Linked DNA regions of Homo sapiens. The protein of the gene in region 5 purifies or fractionates together with the protein of the main gene of each other region. This does not show direct contact. Each region holds a gene or a part of one and is shown on either strand. Other genes may lie near its edges.

Region 1 (3,500 bases), on a different chromosome or scaffold from region 5:
ATTTGATCTACCAGGCAGTGGGGAGCTATGGAAGGTTCTAGAGCACTGGCCACATTAAAGAGGAAGGTTGCAGTATGGGTCAAATTTCTCACCTCATAATAGGACCAGGACTCATGTGGAACTAGACCACTCTAGCTAACAATCAAATACTTTTCTCCCAAACCAAGTTTATCCTGCTTTGAAGATTGCACAAGTTTTGGAGAGCTGACTCACTCAGAAATCACACGCAGTTTCTCCCCTCGGCGGAATATCGGGGGGCTGATGTCAGGAGACGGGTAGTCACTTAGCACGGCAAGGAAGTCGCTATCCAGTCCTGGGGAAACAAAGGCAAGGGGGAAGGGGGCAAGGTGCTTTTTATTCACAAGGAGCTTAAAGGTAGGCTTGGGAGGGAGGGTATGAAGATGAGATTTTCCAGCAGGAAATACCTTTCTTGTTTTGAACCACCAATTTACAGCAAGGTCCTCTCTTCAGAGATGGCTCTGCAGGGTGTGCGTACGAGCCCTGAGGGTCAGGTGACATGCTCCTATTCTTAAGCCTGCCTTGGCCCTCATGTTCTCATCTGAGAAATGGGATCCAAAGGCTGTGAGATGAGTCATGGGGTCTGGCTTCAGCGCCTGTTACGAGTCTACTAGCCTCACCCTCTCCATCTTTAAAATGGGACTAATACTACCTCATTCCAGGGTCCTTAGGAGAGGAGATGAGAGTATGTTACACCACATACGTTCACATAAGTTGCTGTAAAAACCCCCCTTCTCACTACCAATGCCTCGGGTGTCCACTCTGGGACTCAGAGTTGTTATATCTATGACACTTTTGGGGAAGGAGTGTGAGGCAAAATGAGTTCTGAGGACCCATTAGGACCATGAGGCAGTAACTCTGAGGTTAAACAAAATACTTATTTCTTGCAGAATATAAGGCCCCACGCTGGGCATCTATTTAATAGGGACATTTGTTGAGGGTGGGGGTGGTGGAAGAAAAACTTAGTACTTTTCCTAATAGTGTATTGAAAGGAATTCTGGTGAAGTTTTGAAAAGGAAAGAGGGCTGTCTGGTTCCTGACTGTAGAGGAGAGACAGTGATTTTGCTTTTTGACACTGAGCGATACGTCTGCTTCTATCCTTAGTGATTTGATGTAATTCAGATGCATTAGATGCAGGGTAATATTTGGATACATTTTTGGGGGAAATAACAAGATGTCTTCTGTATCAGCAAATACAGTTATTATTTGCTATGACTTTCATCACTCCACCTGCTGGCTGGGACTTTGAACTTAAAATTCTGGGTAACATCACCTGTTTATTCATTCGGCAACTACTTACTGAGCACCTGTCGTAAGCAGCATAGGTGAGAAAAGCAAGCCCATTCTTGCTGCTTTCACGGAGCTCATGTTCTACAGGATACATAAATAGTCATGGGAGGAACTGTTCCCTGGTTCGCTCACCCCAAGATCTGGAGAAATCCCAGTACTCAGGCATGTGGGCTTTGGGGCCCAAACAAGCCACTTTCTAGGATCCACACACCTCTAGATCCTGCCTCTTACAACTCATATGTCTTGCAGCCTCCGAGTCATAAGCCTCTTGGGCAGACTAAGTCTAAAGAGAGATTAAATACTAGAATCAGTGAGAAAGATGAGTGAGGTTTTGGGCAAAGGTTATGCTTATCGATTGATAAATAAATTAGAAACAAGTAATCACGGTGGAACAGTGCAGTCAAATGTATTGTTCATTTGGGGAAGCTGAGTCCCTGACAATAAGCCATGTAAAAGCAAGAGTTTCTGGGTGTAAGACAGAAACCAAGAGTGATCTTTAGTGGCTTTACAATATGGAAAGGGATCAGGGCTTTTGAGAAACAGTCGTGTCGGGACGTAAAAGGGCTGGCCCAGCCAGACCTCTGACCTGTCCTGCTGCAGACCTTCCCCAAACCTGTGGGGGCAGCTCCCTCACATTCTGCTTTGCTGAATTCAAAAAAGGGATTCTTCCCTGTGTAGCTTTGACTCCACCCCAGTAAGTAGAGGCAGCATTACAGTTGTGTTAAGTTTGAAGCCAGAAGTCCCAAGTTCTCACAAAGGGCAGGTTCACATTTGGCAGGGCATAAAGCTTAAGCAAATTTGGCAGTCCTCTTTAAGAAAAAAATACACAATTGCAAATACAAAATGAAGGACAGACCCCAGCAAGGTGCTGTACCAGCAAGGGGGTCTCAGGCGTATGATTTGTTTGGCTTCCTGGCAAATCTGCCCAGAAGCTGAGGCTGACTTTGCCACTCACTGAGTGGGACGCCTCCTTCTCCTCTTGGGCCTGGGTTTCCTAGTCTGGAAAATGAGAGGTTGAAAAACACCTTCAAGATGGAAATCTATCTTCCTGGACTAATGGCCCCCACATATGAATGGGCCGTTTATTAACATGGCACTGTGCTGCCTCGGCTACATGTGATGGGCCTTTCTCCAACTTGCCAGGCACCCTGGTTCTCAGAGCCTCCGGATAGGCTGTTCCCTCTGCCTGGAACACACCCTGCTCTTCCCTCCTTCACCGTTCCCACCTTTGTCAACTCTAAACTCACCTCTGCAGAGGCTCCAGAGGAGGCTCAGCCTTCCTGCTGTACTAATTCTTCCTCTTGGCCCCTAAGATTTTCCTCTGAAGCGGTTACCCCAGGTTGCATTTTCCCATTTGTGTGACTGTCAGGGGAATGCCCATCTGTCCCCACCCCCGGCTGTGAGTTCCGGGAGGGCAGAATACTGGTGTCTTCTGTGTCTGTAGCCTGTGCCACACCTGTTTTACAAAGGATGCTCAAAGCAGGCTTACTGAATGTGCAGAGCGGTCCCTGTGCTGCAATGCCCCTTAAATACAGCTGTCAAGCTACAGTTTTAAAGCAGATCCAGGCAGAAGGAAACCTGATTTGTGGGAGGCAGCTGGGTAGGTGGCCATTGTGGAACCAGCCCCTTGCAAAAAACGTGTTGAAATGGGGAGGCACAGTGTGTGTTCTCTGTGACAATAATAGAACCTTGAGGTAGATGGTGTGTCTACAGAGGGGTTTGAGGTTTGATATCAAATTCAAGATTAAGACTGTGGAACAGAACAATTGTCTTTCCTAACATTAAAAACAAAAACCAACAGAAACAAAAACAAAAGCAAAATCCCATTATAAAAACCACTGTTCCAATGAGGGAAAGGGAGGCTTAGAGTGTTGGAGAGTTTCAATTTCACAATAACAAAGTTAAGTTTCCTGTGGAATTTCCGTAATAGTGATGTTTTGATAGCTATGGCACTTAAACATCACTGAGGAAACTTTACATCTGGGCTTTTGCTTAAGGGTCAGATAACCTGTGCCTGATCCTTTGCAAGAGATTTCACCTCTCTTTATCATCACCATTAGCCAAACGGGACAAAGTCACTGGGAAGGTATTACAGTTTGGCTTGTACTTCTGTGGGGCAGGGTGGCCATTTTAAGCAAGGCCTGGTGCCAGGATCCCTTCAAAGTCTTCCCTGAGCTTTGGTTGCTACAGAA
Region 2 (3,500 bases), on a different chromosome or scaffold from region 5:
CAAGCAATCCTCCCACCTTGGCCTCCCAAAGTGCTGAGATTACAGGTGTGAGCCACCGCGCCCAGCCCTGCCATCACTTTTTTAGTTTTGACCCATCTAAGCACCATTAAATGGGGGAAATTAGGTGTGGGGTACATGGGAACTCTCTGTACCATTTTGGCAACTTTTCTGTAAATCTAAAAGTATTTCCCAATACAAAGTTTATTTAAAAAAAGTTCAAGTGGCCGGGCACGGTGGCTCATCCCTGTAATCCCAGCACTTTGGGAGGCCGAGGCAGGTGGATCACCTGAGGTCAGCAGTTCAAGACTAGCCTGACCAATGTGGCAAAACCCCATCTCTACTAAAAATACAAAGAATTAGCCGGGCATAGTGGCACACGCCTGTAATCCCAGCTACACAGGAGGTTGAGGCAGGAGAATCGCTTGAACCCGGGAGGCAGAGGTTGCAGTGAGCCAAGACTGTGCTACTGCACTCCAGCCTGGGTGACAGAGTGAGACTCTGTCTCAAAAAAAAAAAAAAAAAAGTTCAAGTGGAGGGAATCGAGGAACTGGCTGAGGGCCGGGGAAGGGGGCGGGGTGGGTAGGGACTGCTGGTACCTCTTGGTGTTTTTTAATCTGAGGACTCTGGCCTTGGGCCTCCCAGGCTGCCTCTGCAGCTTAAGCAGGGGTAGGGGATCAGGGCTCATTCTTGGACCTGCACCTTTGGGTCATCCCCGACACGTTGCCTGTGCCTTCAGAGCCAGGCTTGAGGGGTCATGTGGCCACCAGGCCCCGATGTGTAAGAAGGACAAAGGCAGGGGCTGACCTAGAGGAAACACTGGACCCTAGAGAAGGCCCATACCCCAGGAAGCTGCCCACTGAAGGCCTAGGAGAGTGGGGCCCAGACTGGGGACAGGGTTGGGGTGGGTGAGGCTCAGCTGCTTCCAGGAGAGTGGGCAGAGACAGAGCCAAGAGGTCCACCATCCCAAAGTCCTGAAGCCACTGGATTTTGGTGCCCCCCCTGCTGCCACCACTTGTGCTGCCCACTGCGGGCTCCTGACCCTGCCCAGCCCGGCCGCACCCCCACCTGGCTGCTGTTGGAGAAGGCGTACAGGGCCAGGGGCTTCTCCCGCCGGTTGATGAACTCGATGGCCTCGTCCAAGCTCTGCACGTTCACGATGGGCAGGATGGGCCCGAAGATCTCCTCCTGCATCACAGGCTCCATCTCCTGCACATCCACCAGCACCGTGGGGGCTGCAGGCACCAGAGACAGCTCAGCCCTGGGGCCACAGTCAGGACCGCCCCCAGGGTGGGGGTAGAGGTGGGGACAGGGCCACAGGCCAGGGCTCTAGGCCAGGATCCCAAGGTCTGACTTCCCAAGGCTTCAGGCTTTGGAGTGTTTAGGGAAGAAAGTCTCCCCACAGCCCCCCAGAAGGGACTCTAGAGCTTCCCCAGCCTGCTCAGGGCCTGTGGGACACAGAGAATCCCCCGACCTTGGTCTCACAGTCAGGGGTGATGGGATCTTAGAACCCTTGGAGTTCATGAGGCAACAGCGTCCCAGAATGTTGGCGCCGCAGTGTCCCATGAGCTGCTGAGCCGTACGGCCCAGGAGACTGGGGGCTCAGGACGGGACTCTCGGAGTTTAGAACCTGGGGATTGTGGGCTCGGAGAATCTGAGGTTACAGCCTTTCAGGATAGCCAGTGGTGGGATGGGAGTTCATCTTAGCACGCTGAGCCCTGGAGCCCTGGGATCTGAGCTCAGCGAATCCAAGGTGAGGGACCAGAGTTTGGCCTCATAGGGCCACAGACTTAGAAGCACAGAGACGGAATCATGGCACTGGAGCTGTGGCTCAAGGCCGGGCTCTGGCAGTGGGGCCAGGTTTCAGGCGCGGGTCCAGAGTTGTGGCCCAGCCTTGGGCCCTCCAGTGAGGAGGGGTCTTGGCCCAGGTGGGCTGTGGTAGGGGCAGCAGGACTCACCGATGTAGCGATCGCTCTCATCGCTCTGGCCCCCAATGGCCACACGGCCGCAGCCCAGCAATGCCCGCAGCCGCTGGAACTGTTTCTGGTTGATGATGCGGCCCAGGTTTGGGGAGCTCTGGGGGTCGTCGCCATAGAAACGGGTGATGGTGCTCTGCAGGGCAGGCAGCAGCCTCTCCTGCATCTCAGGGCTGCATAGGACGTAGTCGGGGGCCACGCAGGTCTGGCCGGCGTTGAAGTAGCGGAACCAGGCCACGCGGTTGGCCACGGTCTGGGGGTCGCAGTTGTCGTCCACGTAGCAAGGGTTCTTGCCCCCCAGCTCCAGGGTGACAGGTGTCAGGTGCTTGGCGGCAGCAGTCATAACAATCTTGCCCACACGAGGGCTCCCTGGGCATGGAAGGAAACCAGAGTGGCCGTTCAGTGACCTGGACCAGGCGGGATGGCCCAGCCCACGGCCCCGCTCCTCCCTGGAGAGGTGGTGGAGTCAGCGGGCAGCAGCCCTCGCCTGGCCTTTCCTTGTTCCTCACTGCCACCCTGCAGCCCAGGGCCCTGCTCATCCTTCATCAGGACCAGCCCCTAAGCACAGAGTCTCAGGAGGGAATGGTGCACGGCTGCTATCGGCCCCCAGGGTCCCCCTGCTGAGCCAAACCCCTTGGCTCCTCCCGCCTCTGCTTGTGACCCTGGCTGACCCTGCAGGGGACTCTTTGCAAAATGCTGCATGGAACCCCTCCCCACCCATCTCCTTTGGAAACTTCGGGGATCCCTTATCACCCAAGGATGGAGTCCAGCTCTGTCTACGGCATTCAGGTCTCTCTTCTCTAAACCTAAACCTGGAAGTTCTGCCACCTGCCCAGCCCTTTTTTTCTGACCCTTGAGGTGGACTGTCCCAGGCTGATGCAGGCGTCCCCATGTCCTGCCTGGCTTGGCCTCACCTCTCCTCTGTGCTGGCCTCCAGGGGCCCAGCAGTCTCCGCATGCACACAGCCTTCTCTGCCCTAGCCCTGTCTGGGCCTCAAGGCCTCCTCTCCAGACCTGACTCGGGGACCACGCTGCTGCGTCTGTGGGGATGGCCCTGGCATTTCTCCCCCTTGTGGTCAAGGATTAAAGCCGGCAGGAGCCACTGTGCCTTCTCTACTCTCACCCCTGCCCCATCCTGGCACAGTGCTTCCTGGGCTCTGTGGTTCCTTCCAGGGCTCCTTTGCCTTTGCTGGGAGGCGGCCAGGTCAATCCTGCCAGGCCCTTCCCCACGACTGCCTCGACCTGTAAGGCGCAGACTCGCCTGCCAGCACCACTGTCTTCCTCTCGCTCCCTCTGCCCCTCCCTAGCTCAAAAACTCGAAGCCGGGTGTGGTGGCTCATGCCTGTGATCCCTGCACTTTAGGAGACCAAGGCAGGAGGACTGGTTGAGGCCAAGAGTTCGAGACCAGCCTGAGCAACAGAGTGAGACCCTGTCTTTACTAAAAATACAAAAAATTAGCCGGGCGTGGTGGTACATGCCTGTCACCCCAGCTACTTGGGAAGCTGAGGCATGAGCATCACTTGAACCC
Region 3 (4,199 bases), on a different chromosome or scaffold from region 5:
TTCGCGGTGGCTCAAGCCTGTAATCCCAGCACTTTGGGAGGCCGAGGCAGGCGGATCACTTGAGGTCTGGCGTTCCAGACCAGCAGGGCCAACATGGTGAAACCCCGTCTCTACTAAAAGTACAAAAATTAGACGGGAGTGGTGGCGGGCGCCTGTAATCCCAGCTACTCAGGCGGCTGAGGCAGGAGAATCTTTTGAACGTGGGAGGCGGAGGTTGCAGTGAGCGGAGATCACGCCACTGCATTCCAGCCTGGGCAACAAGAGTGAAACTCCGTCTCAAAAAAATAAATAAATAAATAAAAGCATACTCTTCATTCACATTATTGTATGTTAAGTATAAATTCATTTTTATAACTAGCCTAAATATGACCTCCTGTTTTCTAAGAGTATATTGGCCGGGCGCGGTAGCTCACGCCTGTAATCCCTGCACTTTGGGAGGCCAAGCCAGGCGGATCACAAGGTCAGGAGTTTGAGACCATCCTGGCCAACATGGTGAAACCCCGTCTCTACTAAAAATACAAAAAAATTAGCCCGGTGTGGTAGCGGGTGCCTGCAGTCCCAGCTACTCGGGAGGCTGAGGCGGGAGAATGGCGTGAACACGGGAGGCAGAGCTTGCAGTGAGCCCAGATCGCACCACTGCAAGATCATTCCAGCCTGGGCGACAGAGTGAGACTCTGTCTCAAAAAAAAAAAAAAAAAAGCTGGGCCTGGCGGTGCGCGCCTGTAATCCCCAGCTACTCAGGAGGCTTAGGCAGGAGAACTGTTTGAACCGGGACCCGAGGCAGAGGCTGCGGTGGGCTGAGACAGCGCCACTGCACTCCAGCCTGGGGCAACAAGAGTGAAACTCTGTGTCAAAAAAAAAAAAAAAAAAAAAACCATGAGTATATTCTTGGGCCAGGTGCAGTGGCTCACACCTGTAATCCCAACACTTTCGGAGGACAAGGCGGGAGGATCTTGAGGCCAAGAGTTCGAGACCAGCCTGGAGAAAAAACCCATCGCTACAAAAAAAAAAAAAAAGAAAAATTAGCCCGGCATGGTCCCAGCTACTCCAGAGGCTGAGGTGAAAGGATGGCTTGAGCATGGGAGTTCGAGACTGCAGTGAACCGAGATCACACCACTGCACTACATTTTGCAACAGTGATAGTCACAAACAAAGTCTCTACTCTTAAAACAAATGTAATTGTCAAGCATCAATACCACAAGAGAGCCCTCCAAACAAAAATGTGAACCTAGGCCGGGCGCGGTGGCTCATACCTGCAATTTCAGCACTTTGGGAGGCCGAGTCGGGCGGATCACAAGGTCAGGAGATCGAGACCACCCTGGCCAAAATGGTGAAACCCGTCTCCCCTAAAAACACAAAAATTAGCTGGGCGTGGTGGTGCGCGCCTGTAGTTCCAGCTACTCAGGAGGCTGAGGCAGGAGAATCGCTTGAACCCGGAAGGCGGAGGTTGCAGTGAGCCGAGATCGCGCCACATTGCACTCCAGCCTGGCGACAGAGCAAGACTCCGTCTCAAAAAAAAAAAAAAAAAAAAAGTGAACCTCCAATGAAGATATTCAATAGAATAAATATTCGGAATAAATTGAATGGTCTCCTAAAAATAGGGCTTTATTTTTCCCAACTACTTTAAAGGTATTTTTAACTAGCGATGTTAGATTTTCTTTCTTAATCCTACTAAAGTATAGCTGAGTATCTTCGTCTTGTTAATTTAGCCTCCAGAAAATTCTAATTTAGTAGTCTGCAATGCCGTAAAATGTTAAACTAGCAACAGATGAAAAAAAATCCGAGTAGAAACAGCAGGCAGGGATCTAAGGTGGAGTAAAAATAGCCACAAATTAGAAACCAGGAGAAAAGGTATATAGTATTTTACTTTCAATATTAATTTTCCTCCAAAGGTCAAGATTTCTGATTAAGAGTTCTCAGATTAAGATGAGCTAGCTTTGAGACACTTTGTTGTGCGGGTCATAGCTTTGTCTAAAAACAAACAAAAAACTTTGGGAAACTTTTCGAAGGCGCGCTTCCAAACTTCAGGCGCCGAGTCTATTTCACATGTGGGGCCATGTGTCCCACAAGTGAATCGTTTACACCACAGATATTCCTCAAAAGGAGACTAAACCAACTTCGCTCTCTTGTTACTTTGACAATAAAAGAGGAACCTTACTCCAGGTCAGTCCTGGATGCCAAGCCTAGGGACTAAGGGATTGCTTTTCCTCTTCTCAAATGTAAGTACACCAGACGCTGCCCCTCCGCGGGGTCTGGAGAGGACGAGCAACTCAGTGGGGATTGGAGCCGACCGCTCGGCTTCAGAGGTCCCGGGACGCCCTTAGGAGGCAGGGCGCCCGTACAGGTGGCGGCTAAGACGGTTGGGGACTGGGGTCGCCCCTCGGCCGGAGCCACAGGGAGAGGCCTGTGCGTGGCAGCCACGGGAGCGACTCACCTCGGCGTCTTCCTTGCACTGTGGAAGGGAAGGGAACTCCAGCTTCACGTCCTCCATGGTGCTGGCCCGCGGGCTGGTGGGTGGGGTGGGAGAGTGTTACACAGCCGGCCGACCCTCGGGCTGGCTGCGGCGGCGGAAGGAAGGAGGGCCGGCGGAGCGGAGGGCTGACAGGAGGGCGGCGGGATTACAACTAACACACGCAGACTACAGGGTCCCAGTGACTCCAGCAGCGGCGGCGGCGAAGACAGGGAAGAGGAGGGTCGGGCGTCTTACACCCGGCCGCCATGCCGCTGCCGTCTCCCTCCCCCAGAGTCTCCGTACCCCTCAGGCCGCCCAGGATCCAGCACAGGAACCAGCCCGACAACCGTCTCCCCGCCTCCTTCCCGCCCCCTCCACCCGCGTCGCCTCAGCCAATCCCAGCCCACGCTCGCCTTCTGCCCGCCCTCCGCCGCCGCCAGGTGTCAGCGCGCCACCGCCCTGCTCCGCCCCTTCGCTAGAGCGCAGACGCTTGGGGGTGGGGGGGGCGGAGCCTCGGATGCTGCTAGGCCACAGCTCACCCGGCGTGGAGGAGGCGGGGCTGCGGTGGGACAGGACGAGTGAAGGTCCTGGGAAAGGCAGTGGGGCGGTCCGAGCCAGCTCCGCCCTTTCCAGACAGGACGTAGAGCCCTTCTTTAACATAAGAACAAACAGGCAAAACAGGCTACCCACCAGTGGCATCCGAAAGGAAAGCTATAGTTTCTCCCCTCTCAAAATTCTGCGCAATCTATGCTGAGTTTATAACCAAATGACTAATAAATGAAGAGTTCAATTTAAAATCACGTGGTGCCATACAGAAAATAAAATACCCATCACCTTTAAGCAAAGAATTAAACGGCTCAATTTAAAATTTTTTAAAGTATTTTAAGAGTACTTGAAAATACAACTCAGTTTAGATTACCTAGAAAATATCAAGAATGGCAACTAGAAAAAAATCAGAAAAAGGAACTGATAGCTGACTCAGTAAATTGTATATAATACTGTAAAATTTCTTCCATTATTATATTTTGAAATAAAAATAATAAACCAGATGGCTTTCAATATCTTTTAAAAGGAGTTTGCCAGCCTGAGCAAAATAGTAAGACCCCCCTCTCTAAAAAACAATTTTAAAATTCCCTGGGTGTGGTGGCGTTATGCCTGTAAACCCATGGTGAAAAGATTTGGGCCGGGCGCGGAGGCTCACGCCTGTAATCCCAGCACTTTGGGCGGCTGAGGCGTGTGGATCACCTGAGGTCGGGAGTTTGAGACCAGCCTGACCAACATGGAGAAACCCCGTCTCTACTAAAAATACAAAAATTAGCTGGGTGTGGTGGCGCATGCCAGTAATCGCAGCTACTTAGAAGGCTGAGGCAGGAGAACCGCTTAAATCCGGGAGGCGGAGGTTGCAATGAGCTGAGATAGTGCAATGGCACTACAGCCTGGGCAACAAGAGCGAAACTCCATCTCAAAAAAAATCAAAAATAAAAAAAGAAAGAAAGGATTTGTACACCAAATTGATTCTTTAAAAAACCACCGCCAGCACAAAGGTAAAAGGCAAGATAGTCACTCCTTAACTAAATGCAAATTATAAGTGAAAAGATCACATAGATATTTGACTTAAACCTCCCCCTACATTCTACTTTTTGTCACATAAAATGCACTGCCAACACATAGAAATAGAACTGTACAATAATTTGAGTATGAGATGGCTAACTTGACCACTCCATTTTCTATTTTAACTGTTCATCTT
Region 4 (3,500 bases), on a different chromosome or scaffold from region 5:
TGGAGTGCAGTGGTGCAATCATGGCTCACTGCAGCCTTGAAATCCTGGGCTCAAGGGATCCTCCTGCCGCAGCCTCCCAAGTATTCGTATTATAGCTGGGACTCCAGGTGTACGCCACCACACCCAGCCCAAACTCCCATTCAAAGCCTGTGTGCTCAGAAGCCTCTGCAGCTGCGCTGGTTTCATTCTCTCACTGTGGAGCATCTGCTGCGAATCAGGTGCAAGGCTGGGCTCTGAGGGCACAGTTCAGCCACCAGAGTTCTGGGTCTTTCAGGGAATGAAATTTCCCATCTCTGCCCAACCACAACACAGCAAAAACATTTCTCCCTTTGCATTTCCCTCAAAATACTAGGTTGGTGCAAAAATCACAATTACTTTTACACCAACCTAATAGCCCCCAAACCCTCTGACCCAACCCTCATATGGGGGACTGCCTGAAACTTCACTCTGTCTATTCACAGGTTGTCTTAGGCTTTAAGCCCCTGGAGGTGGAGACAAGATTTTTAACATCCTCCTGGTTCTAAGACCCTCTGATAAGAGCTCCTTGTGCTGTGTTCACAGGTGACTGCTGGCTGCTGGCAGCCATTGCCTCCCTCACCTTGAATGAAGAAATCCTGGCTCGAGTCGTCCCCCTAAACCAGAGCTTCCAGGAAAACTATGCAGGGATCTTTCACTTCCAGGTAACTTAATGGTTGGCTCAGGTGGTTCCTCAACAGGTCCAGGGGGCTAGGAACAGTCTTCTGGCTTGGCTGGGTTCATCAGTCCCTGGTGTTTGCAGACTCCCAAGACCAATACTGTTCTACAAAGGACATTGGGCGAGAGCAGGAAGCTTCCTGGCTTACCCGTGGCCAGGATGTGAGACCCGGCTGGGATGGCCCTGGGTGGTTTCTTGGGACATGTAAAAGGGAGGTAGAGCAAGGTGTTCAGGAACTAATTCCCAAGTTTAAAAAAAAAAACTGTATTATTTGATGTTTGAGACAAAAACGTTGAAGTTCTCCTCCTTTTATGCCGGTAAATGAGAAATAATACTTGAAAAAGCTGGCTGGGCACGGTAGCTCATGCCCGTAATCTCAGCACTTTGGGAGGCCGAGGTGGGCAGATCATTTGAGGTCAGGAGTTCGAGACCAGCCTGGCCAACATGATGAAACCCCATCTCTACTAAAAGTACAAAAATCAGTTGGGCGTAGTAGTGCAGGCCTGTAATCCCAGCTACTTGGGAGGCTGAGGCAGGAGAATCACTTTAACCTGGGAGGCAGAGGTTGGGAGGCCAAGGTGGGTGGATCACTTGAGCCCAGGAGTTCGAGACCAGCTGGGGCAACATGCTGAAACTCCGTCTCTACTAAAAACACAAAAAAAATTAGCCGGGTGTGGTGGCACGTGCCCTTAATCCCAGCTACTCGGGAGGCTGAGGCAAGAGAATCACTTGCATCCAGGAGGCAGAGGTTGCAGTGAGCCGAGATCGTGCCACTGCACTCCAGCCTGGGCAGAGCAAGACTTGGTCTCAAAAAAAAAAAAAAACAGCCTAAGGTACAGGGCAGAATGCTAAAGAGGCGGGTGTGGATTTGAAAGGATGGACATGCGCCTCTGTCTTCGCTTTTTTAGTGAGGACTTGGCCTGCATAGGAGAGTTAAGGGAGCACCTCCTCCCAGGATGCGCTCATGGAACCTATCCCAGGGGATCAGGGCAAGGGGAGCCAGAGGCAGCTGAGGCTCAGAGTCCCAGTGCTGCCACCAGCTCCTCCTGCAGCCCACCTCTCTTGTTCTGCAGTTCTGGCAATACGGCGAGTGGGTGGAGGTGGTGGTGGATGACAGGCTGCCCACCAAGGACGGGGAGCTGCTCTTTGTGCATTCAGCCGAAGGGAGCGAGTTCTGGAGCGCCCTGCTGGAGAAGGCATACGCCAAGTAAGTTGCCATCCTCCCCTGGCCCCATGGCCTTCCCCCAATGCCCTGGATTCCAAAAAATTCACTCATGCCTGTAATCTCAGCACTTTGGGAGGCCGAGGTGGGTGGATCATTTGAGGTCAGGAGTTCGAGACCAGCCTGGCCAACATGATGAAACCCCGTCTCTACTAAAAATATAAAAATCAGTAGAACTACTCCAGGACTACTTTGAGTGGGAAGTCCTTTTCTATAGAAGGACTTCTTTGGCCAAAATTAGGCTCTAAATGCAAGGAGATAGTGCATGCAGGGTGCCTGGCTGCACTGTACGCTGATAAATGATGTCTATCACCATCTTTAACCAAATGCACAGGAACAAGTTATGGTACTGATTGTGCTGGACTTGAGAAGGAGCTCTACTTCCTTGACAGGACACATTTGTATCAACTTAAAAAAGCAGAATTTTTGCCAATGGGCAGAACTATTCATTGCAGAGGTAGGAAACTTGCCCAGAATAGATGATGTCACTGATTAGCAATGGCTTCCCCATCTCCGCACAGCTGCTTCCCACCCAGGTTGCCCACAGTTGAGTTTGTCCAGTGCTCAGGGCTGCCCACTCTCAGTAAGAAGCCCCACACCAGCCCCTCTCCACAATGGCCCCATGTTGGCTGTGCCGCCCGGCTCCTTCCATTAAAGTGACCCCACTTTAGAGCAGCAAGTGGATTTCTGTTTCTTACAGTCCCAATCCAGGAAGGAGGAGTCAGCTGTGAGAACCTGGAGCCTGACGGATGCTTCTAAGTCCCACTGCTCAATACTGGGGTCAGGGAAGCCACCGGACTCCAGCATCAGCAGTCAGGAGCACTAAGCCCTTGCCAACACCGTGCCTGTTTCTCAGAGAAACTGCTTCCATTATTGAATGGTTGTCCTTTTTTAAGCTATCAATGCCAAACGACCCATTAGTAGACCTCCCCTTTCTTGTCAGGATGTAGAAGGAATCAATACAGGAGGTTCATCCAGAAAATCACTAAGGTCCTTCCGACTCTAAGGTTCTACGAGAATCTTTTTTTTTTTTTTTTTTTTTAATACGGAGCCTCATTCTGTCACCCAGGCTGGAGTGAGCGGCATGATCTCAGCTCACTGCAATTTCCACGTTCTGAGTTTCAGCAATTCTTTTGCCTCAGCCTCCCAAGTAGCTGGGACTACAGGCATGCACCACCATGCCCAGCTAATTTTTTTGTATTTTTAGTAGAGATGGTGTTTTGCCATGTTGGCCAGGCTGGTCTTGAACTCCTGACCTCAAGTGATCCGCCCACCTCGGCCTCCCAGAGTGCTGGGATTACAGGCATGAGCTACCGCGCCCGGCCTGAGATTTTCTTTAAAACACAAAATACCAGGGAAATGGTAACTGTGGACATTATACCTTGCCTTCCTGAGCACCCCGAGCTGGGAACAAGGCCAAGGAGAATGTGAGCAGGGGGTCCCTGGAGCATCAAATCTAGACGGTACTAGGGGGTGGCTGTTTGAGAGATTATAGCATCAGTAGTGTCAAGGGTAGCGGCAGCGTCTAATCCCCTCTTGTAGGATCAACGGATGCTATGAAGCGCTATCAGGGGGTGCCACCAC
Region 5 (4,254 bases):
TGAATTTCTCCCTAGAAAATGGGTTTTTCTTTTCTATCACATAGTCAGGCTACAAATTTTCCAAACTTTTCTGCTCTGCTTCCCCTATAAAACTGAATACCTTTAACAGTACCCAAGTCACCTCTTGAATGCTTTGCCACTTAGAAATTTCTTCCACTAGATACCCTAAAACATCTTTCTCAAGTTCAAAGTTCCACAAATCTCTAGGGCAGGGGCAAAATGCCATCAGTCTCTCTGCTAAAACATAACAAGAGTCACCTTTACTCCAGTTCCCAACAAGTTTCTCATCTCCATCTGAGACCACCTCAGCCTGGACCTTATTGATCATACCACTATCAGCATTTTGGGCAAAGTCACTCAACAAGTCTCTAGGAAGTTCCAAACTTTCCCACATTTTCCTGTCTTCTTTTGAGCCCCCCATACTGTTCCAACCTCTGACTGTTACCCAGTTCCAAAGATGCTTCTACATTTTTGGGTATCTTTTCAGCAACGCCCCACTTACCGCTACCAATTTACAGTATTAGTCTGTTTTCACACTGCTGCTAAAGACATACCTGAGACTGGGAAGAAAAAGAGGTTTAATTGAACTTAAGTTCCACATGGCTGGGGAGGCCTCAAAATCATGGCGGGAGGTGAAAGGCGCTTCTTAACATGTTGATGGCAAAAGAAAATGAGAAAGAAGCAAAAAAGGAAACCCCTGATAAACCCATCAGATCTTGTGAGACTTATTCACTATCACAAGAATAGCATGGGAAAGACTGGCCCCATGATTCAATTACTTTCCCCGGGTCCCTCCCACAACACGTGGGAATTCTGGGAGATAGAATTCAAGTTGAGATTTGGGTGGGGACACAGCCAAACCATATCATGAACCAAGAGAGAAAGAAACATGTTTTAATGAATCTTCTCAGGCGGCTGAGGCAGGAAGATGGCTTGAGCCCAGGAGATGGAGGTTGCAGTATGTTATGATTTTGCCACTGCCTGGGTGACAGAGTGAGATCCATCTCAAAAAAATAAATTAGAAAAAGATAAACTGCAGAGCATAAATGTTATGGGCTACTTTTGACAGAGGAATCAAATCTTCCTTGCCAAATTTAGACCCGTGTGGGTCAGCAGAAATTGACTAGAAATAGTGGCCACCGAATGGTAACTCACAAGGGTAGCAGTTAAAGTTGGTAAAATTTTAAATGCACACAAAACCAATGGACGAATCAACTTTTCCTCGCAAAACCAACAACTAAGTTTCAACAACTGAGAAAAAGTTTCATATTATCAGGCCAGACACTGTGGCTCACACCTGTAATCCCAGCACTTTGGGAGACTGAGGTTGGGGGACAGCTTCAGTCCAGGAGTTCGAGACCATCCTGGGCAACATAGCAAGACTCTGTCCTTAAAAAAAGAACTTCAAAAGCAACTGTATTAAAGGGAGTTACAGATGGATATATACAGTAAAATTGTTTAAAAGTAGAACACTATCTAAATAGTAGAACAGCATTACCCGAAGTTCAGAAATACATTACTAACACTATAATTGTTTTTGGACACACACATATGAAGTAACGTAAAAGGAAGGGTGCAAATTCACTTTATAATAGCAATTATCTATGAAGACAGTTTCAAAAAGGGCAACAAATATATCTATAAATGTTTTGAGCCAGTTGCTGTGGCTCATGCCTGTAATCTGAACACTTTGGGAGGCTAAGTCGGGAGAATCACTTGAGCCCAGGAGTTCGAGACCAGCCTGGGCAGCATAGTGAGACTCCGTCTCTACAAAAAATAAAAAATTAGCAGGTGTAGTGGCGAGCGCCCGTGGTTCCAGCTACTCAGGAGGCTGATGCGAGAGGATCGCTTGAGCTTGGGAGGTCGAGGCTGCAATCGCACCACTGCACTCCAGCCTGAGCAGCAGAGCGAGACTCTGTCTCAAAAACAAAACAAAAACTTGATAACATAGTCATAAATTAGCATTTATCGAATGATAAATATGTGCCAGACTGTTCTAAGCCCTTTCCCTGCGTGATCTCAGTGAAGTCCCATAATAGCCCCGTGAGGCAGGTACTGTCCTTTATCCCCATTGCAGGGATGAGGAAATTGAGGCCCTGAGGTCGAAGAGGAGCTGGTAAGCGATGATGCCGAGATAGGCCCCGGATCGCCTGGCTCTAAATCCCCAGCCCGGGCCCCGACACACAGTCCCAGGGTGGGAGAGGTGGTCTTCGGGGTCCGGGCACCGCGACCGCGGCCCAGGCCCGCCCGGCCAGCTGCGCGTACCGTGTAGAGCGTCAGGTCGACATGTCGCCACAGCCACCGGTCGTCCACCAGCCTCTTCCAGCGGTGACAGACCCTGGGGGAGGGGACGCGCGGTTAGAACGACCCCAGCCCCGGGCCACATCGCATCTCCAGGTGCCAGCTGCGCCCTCCGCCCTGCCCTTCCCCCCGGAGGCGGGGCCGCACCTGGAGATGCGGATCCGGTCCCGTACCGGGAGGTAAGAGAAGATCTCGAGCAGGACCGAGTCCGGCAGTTCGACCAAAGTCGCCATGATCCCGCCGACACGCACTTCCGCTTCCGGTTAAAGAGACCCGAGGGGTCCTGGGGGCGCCGAGGCGGCTGACAGGGCGGCGGCCGCGACCTTCCCGTAGCCGGTCGAGAAATTTGACCTTCCTCTCGCTGGGAAGTGATTCGGTCCCAGGGCCGGACCAGCCGCGGATGGGGACCAGAAACCAGCCTGGAAAGCGTGGCTGAGGCAGTGAGAGGCTTGCGGGAGGTGGCTGAGGCGTGATTTGGCCGCGACTGGGAACTAAGACCAAGTCCAGAAGGCGGGGCTGGAGTGAGGCGAAGCTCGGAGGCGGGGCTAGAGACGAGGACCAAGTCCGGAAGGCGTGGCCGGGGTGGGGTGAGGATCGGAGGCGGGGCTAGAGACCAGGACCAAGTCCGGAAGGCGTGGCTGGGGTGGGGCGAGGATCGGAGGCGGGGCTAGAGACGGGGACCAAGTCCGGAAGGCGTGGCTGGGGAGGGGCGAGACCCGGGGACGGGGCTAGAGGCGAGGCCCAAGCCCGGAAGGCGTCGCTGGAGTTGGGCGAGGCTCAGGGGCGGAGCCAGAGAACGGAACCAAGTCCAGAAGGCGGGGCTGGGGCGCGGCTAGGGGGCGGGGCTAGAGACGAGGACCAAGTCCAGAAGGCGTGGCTGGGGTGGGGCGAGGATCAAGCCCGGAAGGCGCGGCTGGAGCGGGGCGAGGCCTAGGTGGGGCTGCAGACGAGAACCACGCCTTGGAGGCGTGGCTAGGGCGGGTAGAGGCTCGGACAACCGCTGGAAGGCGGGGCTGGGGCGGGGCGAGACCTTGGGGGCGGGGTTGACGACGAGGACCTAGCCGAGAGGTCGTGGTCTGGACGGAAACCAGGCTGCAGCAGGACCAGGCGCCAAGGGCGTGGCTGGGGAGCGATGGAGACGCTCGGAAGGTGGGGAGCGGGGGACGGAGACAGGGAGAAGACTACGCCATGAAGGCGTGGTTGAGGCGGGGCGAGGCCTGTGGGTCTGGCCCCGAGCGAATGGCTTGGTAGAGAGTCAGAGAACTCTATTTTTTTACTTAATGATGCTTCTTGATGTCTATGCACAAGGATAAATTTGTATTACTGGAATATCGTGGCCAAAGGACCTGTTGAATTTTTCACTTTCATTGATACTACAGATATTTTCTGAATTGGCAAGTCCACCAAGAAACTATAAAAATGTGTGTGTGCAATGGCTGCACACAGCAGCTTCCTTGGTAGTGTACGCAGCCTGTTGGTTGTATGGGTTGCTCTAAGGGACCTTGGAGACAGGCCTTTCCGATGGATGTTCATGTTTCTAACCTTGCACTACCACAATGTAGGCTCCAAACAGGCATGTGAGGTGCCTTTGGAAAGCCCCAGGGCACTGTGGCCAGGGTTGACATTGGCCAAGTTATCATGTCCATCCGCACCAAGCTGCAGAACAAGGAGCATGCGATTGAGGCCTTGCGCAGGGCCAAGTTCAAGTTTCCTGGCCGCCAGAAGATCTACATCTCAAAGAAGTGGGGCTTCACCAAGTTCAATGCTGATGAATTTGAAGACATGGTGGCTGAGAAGCGGCTCATCCCAGATGGCTGTGGGGTCAAGTACATCCCCAATCGTGGCCCTCTGGACAAGTGGCTGGCCCTGCACTCATGAGGGCTTCCAATGTGCTGCCCCCCCTATTAATACTCACCAATAAATTCTACTTCCTGTCCAAAAAAAAAAATGTGT
Region 6 (3,276 bases), on a different chromosome or scaffold from region 5:
GTAACACATACAATGTACTCACTACACAGGGCCAGGTACTTTTGCCTGAGTCACCTCATTGTATCTTTTGACTTACTCTTCACAACAATCCTGGGGAGTGAAGATAACTATTTCATTTTATAAATTGGGGAAAATAAGGGTCAAAAAAATAAGCTACCCAGAGCCAGGAATAAAACTCAAAACCAAAGTAAATTTGTTCTCTTAAAAAAAAAATACAAAAGAAAGGCTTGGCTTATCTTTAACTGAATAAGCATGTGCCAAGAGGAGAAGAGTTCTTAGCGATGAGAATGATAGGATAATGCCCTCTTTGGCTTTAGTAAGGGTGACATCATCATGTATTGAATATTAACTTTAGGATTTATTTTTCTTCTTTATCTTGATAAATCTCTCACTGTCTACCCTAAAGAAACAGAAGCTTAACATTTCCTCTAACAGGTCACCTAATTAAAACCCAAACCTCCCTTTGCCAATATAACCCCAAATTTCAAACTCAGAGATGAAAATACACAAGGGCTAAGCATAACATTATAAAAACATACACCCCACCTTGGAAAATAGAGGCTCAAAAGCCAAGCTCAAAATGAATTTAAAAAGGTAGAAAATAATATACTAAAGCACATCTTTGCATAACTTCCTAGAACTGCGTATCTGGCCTAGCAATTTTACTCACCATTACATAATCATACAGGCTTACAGCAGAAAATACAAAAAGACCAAAAACTATTTTATAATCCAAACTCAAGAGAATCGCTAAAGTATTAAAGACCAATTTAGGCAGAAACATATGAGACATTTCTTTCTTTCCATAGGTTACTGGGGAACAGGTGGTGTTGGTTAACTTCTTTAGTGGTGATTTGTGAGATTTTGGTACACCCATCACCTGAGCAGTATACACTGCACCCAATTTTTGTCTTTTATTCCTCATCCCCTTCCCACCCTTTCTCCCTGAGTCCCCAAAGTTTATTGTGTCATTCTTATGCCTTTGCATCCTCATAGCTTAGCTCCCACTTATGAGTGAGAACATAGCGATGTTTGGTTTTCCATTCCTGAGTTCTTTCACTTAGAATAATAGTCTCCAATCTTATCCAGGTCACTGTGAATGCCATTAATTCACTCCTTTTTATGGCTGAGGAGTATTCCATTGTATGTATATATATCACAGTTACTTTATCCACGCATTGATTGATGGGCATTTGGGTTGGTTCCACGTTTTTGCAATTGCGAATTGTGCTGCTATAAACATGCGTGTGCACGTATCTTTTTTGTATAATGACTTCTTTTCCTCTGGGTGGATATCTAGTAGTGGGATTGCTGGACCAAATGGTAGTTCTACTTTTAGTTCTTTAAGGAATCTCCACACTGTTTTCCATAGTGGTTGTACTAGTTTACATTCCCACCAGCAGTGTAGAAGTGTTCCGTGTTCACCACATCCATGCCAACATCTACTATTTTTTTGATTTTTTTATTATGGCCATTCTTGCAGAAGTAAGGTGGTATCGCACTGTGGTTTTGATTTGCATTTCCCTGATCATTAGTGATGTTGAGCATTTTTCCATATGTTTATTGGCCATTTGTATATCTTCTTTTAAGAATTGTCTATTCATGTCCTTAGCCCACTTTTTGATGGGACTGCTTTTCTTGCTGATTTGTTGGAGTTCATTGTAGATTCTGGATATTTGTTCTTTTTCAGATGTATATATTATGAAAGATTTTCTCCTTCTCTGTGGGTTGTCTGTTTACTCTGCTGACTTTTCCTTTTGCTCTGCAAAAGTTCTTTAGTTTAATTAAGTCCCAGCTATTTATCTTTGTTTTTATTGCATTTGCTTTTGGGTTCATGAAATCCTTGCCTAAGCCAATGTCTAGAATGATTTTTCCAATGGTATCTTTTAGAATTTTTATAGTTTCAGGTCTTAGATTTAAGTCTTTAATTTATCTTGGGTTGATTTTTGTATACAGTGAGAGAGGAGGATCCAGTTTCATTCTCCTACATGTGGCTAGCCAATTATCCCAGCACCATTTGTTGAAAAGGGTATCCTTTTTCCACTTTACGTTTTTGTTTGCTTTGTTGAAGATCAGTTGGCTGTAAGTATTTGGGTTTATTTCTGGGTTCTCTATTCTGTTCCATTGGTCCATGTGCCTATTTTTATAACCGTACCATGCTGTTTTGGTGACTATGGCCTTATAGTATAAGTTTGAAATCAGGTAATGTGATGCCTTCAGATTTGTTCTTTTTGCTTAGTCTTGCTTTGGCTACGCACATGTGTATGTTAAACCATCCCTGCATCCCTGGTATGAAACCCCTTGATCATGGTGGATTATCTTTTTGATATGTTGTTGGAATCAGTTAGCTAGAATTTTCTTAAGGATTTTAGCATCTATGTTCAAGGATATTGGTCTGTAGTTTTCTTCTTTGGTTATGTCCTTTCCTGGTTTTGGTATTAGGGTGATACTGGCTTCATAGAATGATTTAGGGAGGATTCCTTCTTTCTCTCTCTTGTGGAATAGTGTCTTTAAGACTGGTACCAATTCTTCTTTGAATATCTGGTGGAATTCTGTTGTGAATCCGTCTAGTCCTGGACATTTTTTTGTTGGTAATTTTTTAATTACCATTTCAATCTCCCTGCTTGTTACTGGTCTGTTCAGGGTAATTCTTCCTGATTTAAGCTAGGAGGGTTGTATCTTTCCAGGAATTTATCCATCTATTTTAGGTTTTCTAGTTTATGCATGTAAAGGTGTTCATGGTAGCCTTGAATATCTTTTGTATTTCTGTGGTGTCAGTTGTAATATCTCCCGTTTCATTTCTTATTGAGCTTATTTGGATTTTCTCTCTTTTCTTGGCTAATCTTGCTAACGGTCTATCAATTTTATTTATCTTTTCAAAGAACCAGCTTTTTGTTTCATTTATCTTTTGGATTTTTTTGTTGTTTTGTTTCAATTTCATTTAATTCCGCTCTGATCTTCTTTCTTCTGCTGGGTTTGTTCTTGTTTCTCTAGTTCTTTGAGATGTGACCTTAGATTGTCTGTGCTCTTTCCAACTTTTTGATGTAGGCATTTAGGGCTATGAACTTTCCTCTTAGCACCACCTTTGCTGTATCCCAGAGGTTGATAGGTTGTGTCACTATTGTCATTCAGTTTGAGGAATTTTTACATTTCCATCTTGATTTCATCTTTGACCCAAAGATCATCCAGGAGCAGGTTATTCCATGTATCTGCATGGTTTTGAAGGTTCCTTTTGGAGTTGATTTCCAGTTTTATTCCACTGTGGTCTGAGAAAGT
Region 7 (3,500 bases), on a different chromosome or scaffold from region 5:
ACACTCATGCTCACTCTCGCCCATGTGCTCACACACGGACACTCGTGCTCATTCTTGCCCATGTGCTCACACACGGACCCTCGTGCTCACTCTCACGTGCTCACACACGGACACTCATGCTCACTCACCCATGTGCTCACACTCGGACACTCGTGCTCTCACCCATGTGCTCACACACGGACACTCATGCTCTCTCGCCCATGTGCTCACACACACTCGTGCTCCCTCTCGCCCATGTGCTCACACTCACACGGACACTCGTGCTCATTCTTGCCCATGTGCTCACACACGGACCCTCGTGCTCACTCTCACGTGCTCACACACGGACACGTGCTCATTCTTGCCCATGTGCTCACACACTGACCCTCGTGCTCACTCTCACGTGCTCACACACGGACACTCGTGCTCTCACCCATGTGCTCACACACACGTGCTCACCCATGTGCTCACACACGGACACTCGTGCTCATTCTTGCCCATGTGCTCACACACGGACCCTCGTGCTCACTCACGTGCTCACACGGACACGTGCTCACTCTCACATGCTCACGGACACCCATGCTCACACTCATATGCTCACACACGTGCTCACACTCGCCTCACCCATGTGTGCTCACATACACACGGACACTCGTGCTCACACAGATACTCGTGCACTCTCGCCCTTGTGTGCACACACGGGCATATGATCTCCCAAATGTGCATACTCGTGTCCCTCACACACTCACCAGAGCACCCGCAGCACAGAGCCAGGCTGGCCCAGGCCCTGGCACAGCTCCCGCACGCCCGCATCCTCCAGCCTGTTGTTGCTTATCTGTAGCTCCAGGAGAAACCTGTTCTGGGCCAGCACTGAGCTGAAGTGGGAGCAGCAGGCGGCTGTGAAGCTGCAGGACTTCACCCTGTGGACACAGACAGGACTGACGCCTGGCAGGGGCCCAGGCTGGCCCACAGCTGCGACTGGCCCTTCCCCTGAAGGCCCCACGTGGACCTGAGCAAAAACATCTGACAGCCTCCCAGCAAGTGGGCACCTACACCTGGTCCTTGGCCCCAAGCACTGTTCCCATCAAACCACAGGCTGCTCCCTGGCCTATGCATTCTGAAGGTCGGAGCTGAGCCCAGCAGCTTCCCTGGAGTCGCTCACTCCTCCCCTGGTCTCCTCGGTCACCCTGGCCCTCTCTTGGGCGACAGGGCCCTGCCCCGACAGCCACACTCACCACAGCGACTCCAGCTGGCAGCCAGGTTCCAGCAGGGTCTCACACAGCAGTCGGGCACCCTCATCCCCCAGCTCGTTGCCGGCCAGGCTGAGCTCCTTCAGGCTCTCCTTGGCCCTGAGGACACGGCACAGATCCCCGCAGCCCTTGGCAGTGATGCCACACTCCCAGATCCTGCAGGACATGGACCACCACAGACTTTCCTCAGCACCGTCTCATGGCCTGAGATGAGCCCAGGGGCGGGGGAGAGCTCTGAGGACGGCCCGCCGCCCGACCCTCCGGGAAGGAGGCCTCGCGGAGATGACTCACCACAGGGTCCTGAGCCTGGAGCTGGGGTGGAGCAGCCCTGGGCACAGCTCCGCCATGCCCACATCACCCAGCTTGTTGCTGCCCAGGGCCAGCTCCCGCAGCGAGGCCTTGGAGGCCACAATGCCGCACAGGTCCCGGCAGTTGTCTGATGTCACACCGCAGCTCTCCAGCCTGGGGACACGGGTCACACGTGAGGCAGCACGGGACCCCCCCTAGCCCACACCCCGCACCCCCCCAAGGCCCAGTGCCTACTTGAGCGCCTCCAGCTGGCAGGGGGAGTCCTTCAGGCCCTGGCACAGCACACGGACGCCAGCCTCATTGATGTCGTTGTTGCTAACCGTGAGCTCCTTGAAGTCCGGCTTGGCCCTGAGCACGGAGGCCAGGGGCTCGCAGCTGGCAGCCGAGAGGCTGCAATACTCCAGCCTGGGGGACAGCAGAGCTCAGCACCACACAGGAATGTGCACCAGCCAAGGGTGTGATACCAGGGAGCACGGGGTGTGCTGGTGTCTCATCTCCCCTCAGTCTTCTGCCTGGGCATCAGGTGTCAGTGCTGAGGGACCCCCACAGACTCATCCAGAGGCCCGGGCCTCTGTGGACACCGGCATTCCTTCTGGAAACCCCTCACCCCCTCCCGGACCTCAGACTTTGGGGCCCAACCAGGCCCGGGAGAAAGAAACCAGCCTCTGGAGGGCAGGGCCACCTGCACGTCCCAGGCTGTGGTCAACTCACAATGGCCGGGTCCCCCACACACACTGAGGCGGTGAGTGGAACCTGACTCACGGCCAGGCATCTGTTCCCACCGTCGGGTCCTGGGGCAGCTGTGCCTTGCAAAGGACAACTGGATGGGGAGGGAGGGTGATGACAGATCCCCCCAGCCCCAGCATCATGGGGAGAGGAGAGCACCACAAGGCCCCAGACCCAGCATCATGGGGAAAGGAGAGCACCACAAGGCCCCTGTGACCTGAGTCCCCTCCTCACGGCTCCTGGCAGGCGATGTTCTATGTAGGGGGCTGGCTGGGGGACAGGCAGCGGCCAGCATGGGCCCTGGGGCAGGACACAAACTCACTGCAGCTTTTCCAGGCGGCACTGGGGGTCCAGGAGTCCTTCGCAGAGCAGCTGCAGGCCCGCATCCCCCAAGAGGTTGTCGCTGAGGTGCAGCTCCTGCAGGGTGGGCAGGGTGCGTAGTGTGCTGGACAGGACCCCGCAGCCGGCCCCCGTCAGGCAGCAGTTCTGGAGGCTGGAGCATACCTGGCTGTCAGCAGGGCTCCCCTGAGCCAAGCTGCCACGCCCTTCGCCTGCCAGAGCCCAGAGCCCGGAGCAGCACTCTTCAGGCGGCAGGTCTATACCTGCTCCTTCCCTGGACGGGGCTCTGGGGTCTGGGGTCTCCAGGCCGAGTGAAGGAGGGCACGCATGTGGCTCGACCCAGGGAAACCTTGTCTGCAGACACACCTTTCAGTGGGGGTCTGTGGTGATGCTGGAAGGCTAGGGATGGCGGGCAGGGCCAGATCTTGGGTGCGGGGGCTGGGATAAGGCAGGAAGGGCCCTGTCCCCCCCGCTGTGAGACCGCCAGGCCTGTGTGCCTCTGGCTGATGTTGGAAATGTCTGCTGCCACTGCCTGTCCACCTGCAGCTGCCCACGCGCCCCTGGCGGCTCTGTCCCCTGCTGCCGGGCTACCAAAGCAGACTGCACCAGGCCAGAGGCAGTGCCAGGCCCCGCCTCACCTCAGCTTCTGGATCTTGCAGGAGGGGGTCTGCAGGCCCTGGAGCACGCAATGCACGCCGACATCGCCCAGCTCGTTGCTGCGCAGGTTGAGCTCTGCCAGTGCAGGGTTGACTCGAAGTGCAGAGCTGATGTCCTTGCACCGTGCTTCCGTGAGGCCACAGTCGTCCAGCCTGTGAGCAGACCCCAGGGTCATGTGGACCACGCAGACAGCACTGGCCTCAGCCTCCACCACCACCCCACGTGCAGGTTACAACCTAT

What was found.
Region 1: the proteins of FBXL12 (region 5) and SLA purify together in Homo sapiens (affinity purification with mass spectrometry, with the first as the bait; one study listed by BioGRID). This does not show direct contact.
Region 2: the proteins of FBXL12 (region 5) and ALDH3B1 purify together in Homo sapiens (affinity purification with western blotting, with the first as the bait; one study listed by BioGRID). This does not show direct contact.
Region 3: the proteins of FBXL12 (region 5) and STYX purify together in Homo sapiens (affinity purification with mass spectrometry; 4 studies listed by BioGRID and IntAct, with this or other methods). This does not show direct contact.
Region 4: the proteins of FBXL12 (region 5) and CAPN2 purify together in Homo sapiens (affinity purification with mass spectrometry; 2 studies listed by BioGRID and IntAct, with this or other methods). This does not show direct contact.
Region 6: the proteins of FBXL12 (region 5) and ZNG1C purify together in Homo sapiens (affinity purification with mass spectrometry, with the first as the bait; one study listed by BioGRID). This does not show direct contact.
Region 7: the proteins of FBXL12 (region 5) and RNH1 purify together in Homo sapiens (affinity purification with mass spectrometry, with the first as the bait; one study listed by BioGRID). This does not show direct contact.

What each region holds. Positions count from the first base shown.
Region 1 is NC_000008.11:133,050,603-133,054,102, forward strand, and holds part of SLA (src-like-adapter), read right to left. Parts: intron 314-3,500; coding exon 214-313; intron 1-213. UniProt on the Homo sapiens protein: Adapter protein, which negatively regulates T-cell receptor (TCR) signaling. Inhibits T-cell antigen-receptor induced activation of nuclear factor of activated T-cells. Involved in the negative regulation of positive selection and mitosis of T-cells.
Region 2 is NC_000011.10:68,020,327-68,023,826, reverse strand, and holds part of ALDH3B1 (aldehyde dehydrogenase family 3 member B1), read right to left. Parts: intron 2,343-3,500; coding exon 1,956-2,342; intron 1,233-1,955; coding exon 1,066-1,232; intron 1-1,065. UniProt on the Homo sapiens protein: Oxidizes medium and long chain saturated and unsaturated fatty aldehydes generated in the plasma membrane into non-toxic fatty acids. May have a protective role against the cytotoxicity induced by lipid peroxidation.
Region 3 is NC_000014.9:52,728,767-52,732,965, reverse strand, and holds the start of STYX (serine/threonine/tyrosine-interacting protein), read right to left. Parts: upstream 2,801-4,199; 5' UTR 2,492-2,800; coding exon 2,435-2,491; intron 1-2,434. UniProt on the Homo sapiens protein: Catalytically inactive phosphatase. Acts as a nuclear anchor for MAPK1/MAPK3 (ERK1/ERK2). Modulates cell-fate decisions and cell migration by spatiotemporal regulation of MAPK1/MAPK3 (ERK1/ERK2).
Region 4 is NC_000001.11:223,743,539-223,747,038, forward strand, and holds part of CAPN2 (calpain-2 catalytic subunit), read left to right. Parts: intron 1-561; coding exon 562-680; intron 681-1,767; coding exon 1,768-1,901; intron 1,902-3,458; coding exon 3,459-3,500. UniProt on the Homo sapiens protein: Calcium-regulated non-lysosomal thiol-protease which catalyzes limited proteolysis of substrates involved in cytoskeletal remodeling and signal transduction. Proteolytically cleaves MYOC at 'Arg-226'.
Region 5 is NC_000019.10:9,816,280-9,820,533, forward strand, and holds the start of FBXL12 (F-box/LRR-repeat protein 12), read right to left. Parts: upstream 2,801-4,254; 5' UTR 2,535-2,800; coding exon 2,449-2,534; intron 2,339-2,448; coding exon 2,266-2,338; exon of another isoform or gene 1-2,265. UniProt on the Homo sapiens protein: Substrate-recognition component of the SCF (SKP1-CUL1-F-box protein)-type E3 ubiquitin ligase complex.
Region 6 is NC_000009.12:68,293,983-68,297,258, reverse strand, and holds part of ZNG1C (zinc-regulated GTPase metalloprotein activator 1C), read right to left. Parts: intron 1-3,276.
Region 7 is NC_000011.10:497,243-500,742, forward strand, and holds part of RNH1 (ribonuclease inhibitor), read right to left. Parts: intron 3,413-3,500; coding exon 3,242-3,412; intron 2,758-3,241; coding exon 2,587-2,757; intron 1,944-2,586; coding exon 1,773-1,943; intron 1,692-1,772; coding exon 1,521-1,691; intron 1,386-1,520; coding exon 1,215-1,385; intron 900-1,214; coding exon 729-899; intron 1-728. UniProt on the Homo sapiens protein: Ribonuclease inhibitor which inhibits RNASE1, RNASE2 and angiogenin (ANG). May play a role in redox homeostasis. Required to inhibit the cytotoxic tRNA ribonuclease activity of ANG in the cytoplasm in absence of stress.